2 linked regions of the Homo sapiens genome follow. The protein of the gene in region 1 purifies or fractionates together with the protein of each later gene. This does not show direct contact. Each region holds a gene or a part of one and is shown on either strand. Other genes may lie near its edges.

What was found.
Region 2: the proteins of TESPA1 (region 1) and KCMF1 purify together in Homo sapiens (affinity purification with mass spectrometry; 2 studies listed by BioGRID and IntAct, with this or other methods). This does not show direct contact.

Annotation. Positions count from the first base shown.
Region 1 is NC_000012.12:54,981,804-54,986,134, forward strand, and holds the start of TESPA1 (protein TESPA1), read right to left. Parts: upstream 2,960-4,331; 5' UTR 2,782-2,959; intron 2,364-2,781; exon of another isoform or gene 1-2,363. UniProt on the Homo sapiens protein: Required for the development and maturation of T-cells, its function being essential for the late stages of thymocyte development.
Region 2 is NC_000002.12:84,977,345-84,981,161, reverse strand, and holds part of KCMF1 (E3 ubiquitin-protein ligase KCMF1), read right to left. Parts: intron 1-3,817. UniProt on the Homo sapiens protein: E3 ubiquitin-protein ligase which accepts ubiquitin from an E2 ubiquitin-conjugating enzyme and then transfers it to targeted substrates, promoting their degradation by the proteasome.

The sequences.
Region 1 (4,331 bases):
CCTTTATATCATACAGCCTTCCTCCTGCCACACTTGGTTTCCAAGGCCCAGTCCCAGGTTTGCCTTTAGTGCTCTAGGGGACATGTATGAGACAGACCTCTCTTCTCTTCTGTCTGTTTTGTACCTATGCCCCAAGCAGTGCCTGTGAGTTGAGACTGAGAGTGAGAACCAGTGTGGGAGGAGAGAAGAAGGAAATGGGGTTTCCATGATGTGGCCCATAAGACCTTCTGCATCCACAGCCAAGATATACATCATTACCATCGCAGAGCTGCGGGAAATCCCAGAGTAGCTAACATTTCTCTGTTCATGAACTGGACAAACTCCACCTCAACCCAGGTGGATTGTCCCCCATTTGACATACCCCAATCTGCAACAAATTCTCACATTCCTTCATAGAACTGTCTTCTAGCTCCTAACCCTCTTCCATGTCACTCAGGTTGGAAGATCATCAGAACAAGAATTTCCCTGAGTATAATATTTGAGCATTCTGAGACTTCTATTGTCTAAGGAGCAGTTCAATCTGTTCGGGGAAAAGGAGAGATGTTACTTGGTAAATAACAGAAAGAAAAAATGCCCATTAGTCAATAGAACTCCTATTCCCCTCCCTTTTCATACTCTTTCTCCCACAAATAAGCGTAGCTGAATAAATACTGAAAGAAGACCATCTAAGACCTTTTTCCTCTCCTTCCCTTTCTTCCTTACTTCCACTTTTAGGATATGAATTTTAAGAAAGGCTTGTATAATTGCTACAGGAAATATTAAAGTTGTGGATTTGGAAAAAAAATTAATCGCTTGTTCTCAATGTAGGGAGACATCAAATATCTTCATTTGAATGGGCAATAAAGACATCAAGAATAAGAAACAGCAGTTTATCTGAGCTGATTTATAGATGGCTTCATCAAGAGAAAGTAGGGAGAATGAGCAGATTTCTCAACCATTGTGTTAGCTCTGTGAATTCGTATCTTTAATTCTTCAGTTTCATTTCCTTGGTAATAAGCTCTGTCCTGCATATATTCATTTTTCTTCTTTCCTGCTTTTCTTTTTCAATATCTACACACTCTCTTCTCCTCGTCCCTCTACTTATTTGACTGAACTCTTTTCTCAATCTGAAATCTGTGTTTAGGCCATTCTGCATCAGGCCTGGGTGTTGTAAGGCACACAGTACTGTGGGTACTGGAATATCCACTTTGGTCTTGTGCCTTAGGTGGAAAAGAGAACAGTTGTCAGTTTGCAGGTGGAAATAAACGTGTGATCTTTTCCCCTTACTGTAGCCCAGAAGGAATCTTGTAAGTCACAGCATTGGCTGAGACGAGACCTCCATACTAGAATCCAAATCAAACATTGAACTGAAAATGACGGTTGGGGCTTCATGTTCACTACATAATGCTGAATCGCAGGGTTCCATCTTAATTTTCAAAAAACCCAAGAGTTATGAGAACATGTTGGTAGCGTGGTTGTAAATGGTTTCTAAACACCCTGGGGTGCATGCGAATAACTCAGATGTTAAATTGCTTTCTATCCCTTCTGCTATATCTTCAGCTTGTTATTTCTGATAATAGTCCAAGTAGAGACAGACAATAAACCTGACTTCCCTTCTTCCTACTAACACTTCATGCTGCAAGACAATATTGTGAGATCTTTATCTCTAATCACTCAGCTGAACAACTATTGAGTCTGATACTTGGACACACAAGTTGAAGGTTCCTACCTCCAACCTCCCATCCTAGGTACTGCCCTGCACCATCTAGAAAGTCTCCTTACCTCTCTACTCAGGACCATTTGTGGTATACAGAGTCACTAGTACTTCCCTGGATATCTCCTGTAAATGCTCACAGTCTTGTCAAATCACTTCTGTGGAACTCTCCTTTCTTGTCCTTGCCCTGCCCTGGGGACCCACCCTTTTTCTTCCACCCACTGGTGAGCTTAGTGGCACAGAAGGGGCATGGGAAAACCCCAGGGTGGAGGATCTTTCCACTCCTCCATCTACCCCAAAACTCATGTAGGTGGTGATATGCTCTGCCTGCTACCACTGGGGCAAGGGGTGTTGGAGGAGCATGAAGCCCCCAATATTATGTAGGTCACTGAGAAGGCAACACATCCATCTATCTATCTTTGAGATGTGAACCCTGAAATCTGGTCCTGATGGTGGCTATCCATCTATCTTGAGCCTCCCGGTGAATTTGACCTTACCTCACTCAAGTGTGTACATCCTCCCTCGTAGCTGACCTCAATATATCTTGCTGCAGTTTATCTCAACAAGTTTCTTCTACAGCTTCTGAAGAAAGAGGTCATACCCACAGAAAGCAAAGTTGATTTCAGCCAGGTACTCTCAATGGTTGGAGCTATGGACACTAGAGTAGGGCCTGAAATGAAACCGGGAAACTTCTTCCTTGAGAACTTTTCGATGTTATAATCAGATGGAAATTGCAGCAACAATGAGTTCAGCAAGACACAGAGAAGAACTTTGCAGGTGAGAAAGGTGAAAAAAAATTCCTAAAATGTTATTCAAGTCATCAAAGAGACCCAAGTTTTGAGAATCTAGAAAGATTACCTCTCTGATAATAAAGAGAAAACAAACAAACGAAAGCAAAAGGGCACCCAGCATCGTTCTCCTAGGCATAATGATGGATGCTTTTAAGGTTGAAGTAAGAGTGGTGGGAGATTTTCTCTTGATTTTCCCTTGACTTGACAGCCTGATTTTTCTCTGACATGTTTCCTTCTTTCTCCTAGCATCACCCTAAATCAGTACAGCCTTGAAACTGAGATAAAGGCTGTGCTTACCTGTCTGCTGGTAGAAAGCTGAGTTTGAGGCAAAGCAGTTGTCGAAGCTGGGCCGAGGCCTTCACAGGTGTGGGCACAGAGGTGAAGCAAGTGAGAAAGTATCATGTTGTAGATTATGCCTTTCTCCCTGAACTCATTCAACTGCTGTTGCCTGCTCAAAAGGGGAAGCGGAAATGAGAACACACCACACACACACACATCCACACATGTAGATGCAGTCCCCGCCTCCTGGCCCAGCCACATCCTTTGCTCCGGCTCAGGAGACTGAGCGAAGGACAAACCATCCGTAGACACGGTGCTCACAACTAGGAAGACCTTCCTGCCCCAGAGCTGCCTCTGTCTTTCCAGAAAAACAGGAGATCTTTTCCTATTAAGGCAAAGGTACAGTCCATTTAAAGAGGTGTGTGCAGGAGTCTTCCTACCATATAACTAGAATTCCACTGCTGCAGATAAATCCTTCTGTCCTCAGGAGAGCTGTCTGAAAATGGGAAAGCTCTCTCTCATAAATGATCTGGCGTTTATCTCAGAGAAGAAGTTTCCAGTCGTATCACACACTTGAGAGGGCTCTGAGCCAGTCGCTCTGTGTTGATAACTTTCATACTCTGGTAAATTCCCCCGAAGCTTGTTTTTGAATACTGACTACTTTTTTTTTCTGTTAGTTTCTTAACTTTGTTTTATGTTCAAACCACTTCAAAGTTTTTGTTTTTGTAGTAAATGACTGCTTTCCCCAACGTTTTCAAAGCTGAACTTTTAAAATCGGTTACACCCTGAAGATGTCTTCAGTTTATTGGTTTTCAGTTTGGAAAAGGCTTGTTGAACTCTAAAAGGTTTCTCCCAGGCCTCAATCACTTTCACCCACCGGGAGCATCCAGCACTGCTAACTATCCCTCCTCGCTTCTCCAGTATCTCTGAACACTCTTCTCCGTAGGATGCTGCTGCATTTTGGATATCTTCTTTCTGTCTCTCTCCTGATTCTACTGTTTCCTTCTTTAAATCATTTATTTATGAATGTATATCACAATATTTATTCTACAAGGCACTCCTCTAATGTGTTAATTGTGACTGATTTTCACATGTTCATTACCTTCTTTCTGATTTTTTGGCTATAGGTATAGTTAGATTTTTTTTTTACCATGTTTCTAAATTCCATTTCCAATCATCAATGGGACAACTCCATTGAGTATCCATAGTATAGCTATAATATGGTAGAAATAATCCTAAATAAAATTCTTGCTTGGCAAATTAAGTTCTCAAAACATTATTTTCTTCAAGTATAATGTGAGGAAAATAACAATTCTCTCTGTTTCTCACTCAACCCTTCTCCCACGCTATTCCTTTTACGTAGGCATGAAAATATCTAACATATTTTCTCAGGACATAGTAGATGCTAAATATGTGCTTCTCTGAGAATTAGCTTCACAGTCAACAAGTAAAATGCTAAATCCAACACGCCCTAATTCTCTTTATTTACTATTCTTTTCCGTACAAATTAACTATAAAAGCTGAACTAATGGAAACTTAACAACTCTTTTAAATCCTAAGTTTCTAGA
Region 2 (3,817 bases), on another chromosome or scaffold:
AGTCATGATATCAAGATGCTTCATCCACTTATTCTTCTGCTATTTCTTCTAGCTGAGGGTAATACAACTGACCCACTCTTCTGATCTCAGTTTTTTTTTTTCTAGTAGCAGTGATTAAGTTACAGGGATCCATCTATACTTCTTTGCCAGTACCCCCGTGGCCACTGGCAAAGTTTGATGGACTGCTGGCTGGCACTGTGGCCATAGAAGAGATGAGGCTAGGCTGGGTGTGGTGCTTCACACCTATAATCCCAGCACATTGTGAGGCCGAGGCAAGAGGATTGCTTGAGCCCAAGAGTTCAAGACCAGCCTGGATGACACAATGAGACCCTATCTCTACAAAAATTTCAAAAATTATTCAGGCGTGGTAGCACATGCCTGTACTCCCAGCTACTTGGGAGGCTGCGGCAGGAGGATCACGTAAGCCCAAAGGTTGAGGCTGCAGTAAGCCTTGTTTATGTCACTGGACTCCAGTCTGGGTGACAGAGTGAGACCCGGCCTCAAGACAAAAAAAAAAAAAGATATGAGGCTAATTGACTGTGTATATGAATTGGATGAACTCATAATTCTACTTTGCTACAACTCAGAGAGCCAACAACTAAAAACAATTCTACAGGCAGTTACCATGGTTAACAAACACCAAGAGGGCCATCAGGGATGTAGCAGAGAGGGAATGGTGGAAGGTGCCTAACAAGGCAATTCATTCATCTCTTGTTCATTTCATTGGGCAGTGTTTTCACTTCCTGGTACCCAGCTCTCAAGACATTCCATCAGGCGTGAGAGCTGGTTTTCTGTTTCCAACATCCTGTAGCTACAGATCCATTTCCAAGCTTCACACCCACCTTGCCTGTCTTTCCTCTGCCAACACCCACCTGGCCACTGGTCCTTACCAACCCAAGAACAGCCTATCTTTTCCTGGCTCCTCACTTCCTTCTCATGTAATCTAGGTAATATGTTCCTTTAGGAAACTGTCTGCCTTATCCCAGATCTTTAACATAAATCAAGACATGGCTAACATATAAAAATAACTGGCTGGGCGCAGTGGCTCATGCCTGTAATCCCAGCACTTGGGAGGCTGAGGTGGGCAGATCACCTGAGGTCAGGAGTTCAAGACCAGCCTGACCAACATGGAGAAACACCATCTCTACTACAAAAAAAAAAAAAATACAAAATTAGCCGGGCGTGGTGGCGCATGCCTGTAATCCCAGCTACTTGGGAGGCTGAAGCAGGAGAAACACTTGAACCCGGGAGGCAGAGGTTGCGGTGAGCCGAGATCGCGCCACTGCACTCCAGCCTGGGCAACAATAGTGAAACTCGGTCTCAAAAAAAAAAAAATTACCAAATTTTAAGATGCTCTGATCTGTATACTGCTTACGGGTTCTTTTCTCAATTTTAATGAATAACTTCAAAGACTGAAAAAATACCTTATAATTTTAAGGAAATGAAAAACATCATGGTCCTTAGCACAACACTAAAATTAATTAAAAAATTAATCTTCTATAAAAAAAGACTTTTATTAGGAACAGCATTCTACTTTTAACTTTTATGAATATGCAGTTTAGGGAGCGCTTCCTTTGAGTCCATATGCATGAAAGTAGCCCCACAGCTATATTTATAAAGTGATTTTTTTTTTTTTTTTAGACAGAATTTCGCTCTTGTTGCTCAGGCTGGAGTGCAATGGGTGATCTCAGCTCACTGCAACCTCCGCCTCCTGGGTTCAAGAGATTCTCCTGCCTCAGCCTCCCGAGTAGCTGGGATTACAGGCGCCTGCCATCACGCCCAGATATTTTTTTGTATTTTTAGTACAGATGGGGTTTCACTATGTTGGCCAGGCTGGTCTCAAAATCCTGACCTTAAGTGATCCACCCATCTTGGTCTCCCATGGGATTACAGGCATAAGCCACAGCGCCCAGCTCATAAAGTGATTTAAAAAACATTATTTCTAGGATAATTCAATGACAGCTTAGCCTTCACTAAAAACTTTTGGAGCTTCTAGTTTAAAAACAAAAAAAACATGGCCAGGCGCGGTGGCTCACACCTGTAATCCCAGCACTTTGGGAGGCAGAAGGGGGAATCACTTGAGGTCAGGAGTTCGAGACGAGCCTGGCCAATATGGTGAAATCCCATCTCTACTAAAAATACAAAAATTAGCCAGGCACGGTGGCTCATGCCTGTATCCTAGCACTTTGGGAGGCTGAGGTGGGCAGATCACCTGAGGTCAGGAGTTCGAGACCAGCCTGACCAACATGGACAAACCCTGTCTCTATAAAAACACAAAATGAGCCAGACATGGTGGCGCATGCCTGTAATCCCAGCTACTCGGGAGGCTGAGGCAGGAGAATCGCTTGAACCCAGGAAGTGGAGGTTGTGGTGAGCTGAGATCGCGCCATTGCACTCCAGCCTGGGCAACAGGAGCGAAACTCCATCTCAAAAAGCAAACAAACAAAAATTAGCCAGGCATGGTGGTACATGCCTGTAATGCAGCTACTTGGGAAGCTGAGGCAGGAGAATTTATTGAACCTGGGAGACAGAGGCCACAGTGAGCCGAGATCATGCCACTGCACTCCAGCCTGGATGACAGAGTGAGACTCTGTCTCAAAAAAAAACCCAAATACATTGTGCACATGTACCCTAAAACTTAAAGTATAAAAAAAAAAAAACCCAAAAACCAAAAGACAAAAAACCTAGGCAAATATATATGATAGATATCATAAAGTTGATGTTTTGAAAATAAGTTATGATGCATGGATTTCTTTTAAAAAGGTTGCAAAGCTTAATATGAAGGGGTCTGTTTAGTTATTTCACATCATAAGTTTCATAAGCTGCTACTGTGAAAAAGTTACCATCTTACAAGACTGCTGCTAAGGCTGGGCACGGTGGCTCATGCCTGTAATCCTAGCACTTTGGGAGGCCGAGGCGGGTGGATGACCTGAGGTCGGGAGTTCAAGACCAGCCTGACTAACATGGAGAAACCCTCTATCTACTAAAAATACAAAATTAGCTGGGTGAGGTGGCGCATGCCTGTAATCCTAGCTACTCGAGAGGCTGAGGCAGGAGAATCACTTGAACCTGGGAGGCGTAGGTTGCGGTGAGTTGAGATCGCCTCATTGCACCCCAGCCTGGGCAACAAGAGCGAGGAAAGAAAAAAAAAAAAAGATTGCTGCTAAAACATCTTAAAATCTCAGACTAAAAGGAATCTCTTCCAAATTGAGTTCCCAATTTGAAACAAGAACATGTAGTTATGTTTTACTACATTTTAACTTAAACATGAATATAAAAATATGGGAAAATGAGCTTCAAAATGAACTTTAAATGAAATTATGAAATCAAAGACCCCAGAAATTAAAATGTGATTCATTTTCCCATAAATTTACATTCTTATATATTCTCTATTGAAAGTCAAGGTAAATGTAATTTACGATTTATTCAAACTGAAAAAGTTGCTGGGCATGGCAGCTCACACCTATAATCCCAGTACTCGAGAGCTGAGGTGGGAGAATCACTTGAGCCCAGGAGTTTGAGACCAGCCTAGGCAATACTGGAAGATCCAGTCTCTACAAAAAAGAAAAAAAAAAAAAGTCGGGTGTGGGGCGCACACCTGTGGTCCGACCTGCTATGGAGGCTGAAGTGGGAGGATTCTTTGAGCCTGCGAGGTCAATGCTGCAGCGGGCTATGCTGGTGCGCAGCATGGGCGACAGAGACCCTGTCTCAAAAACAAAAAACGAACTGAAAAAGTCTTAAGAATGTCATAATCTGTTAACAGATTACAGTTAAAGTACAATAAGTTGTAAGAAGACCTGATGGTAAGGATCTTATC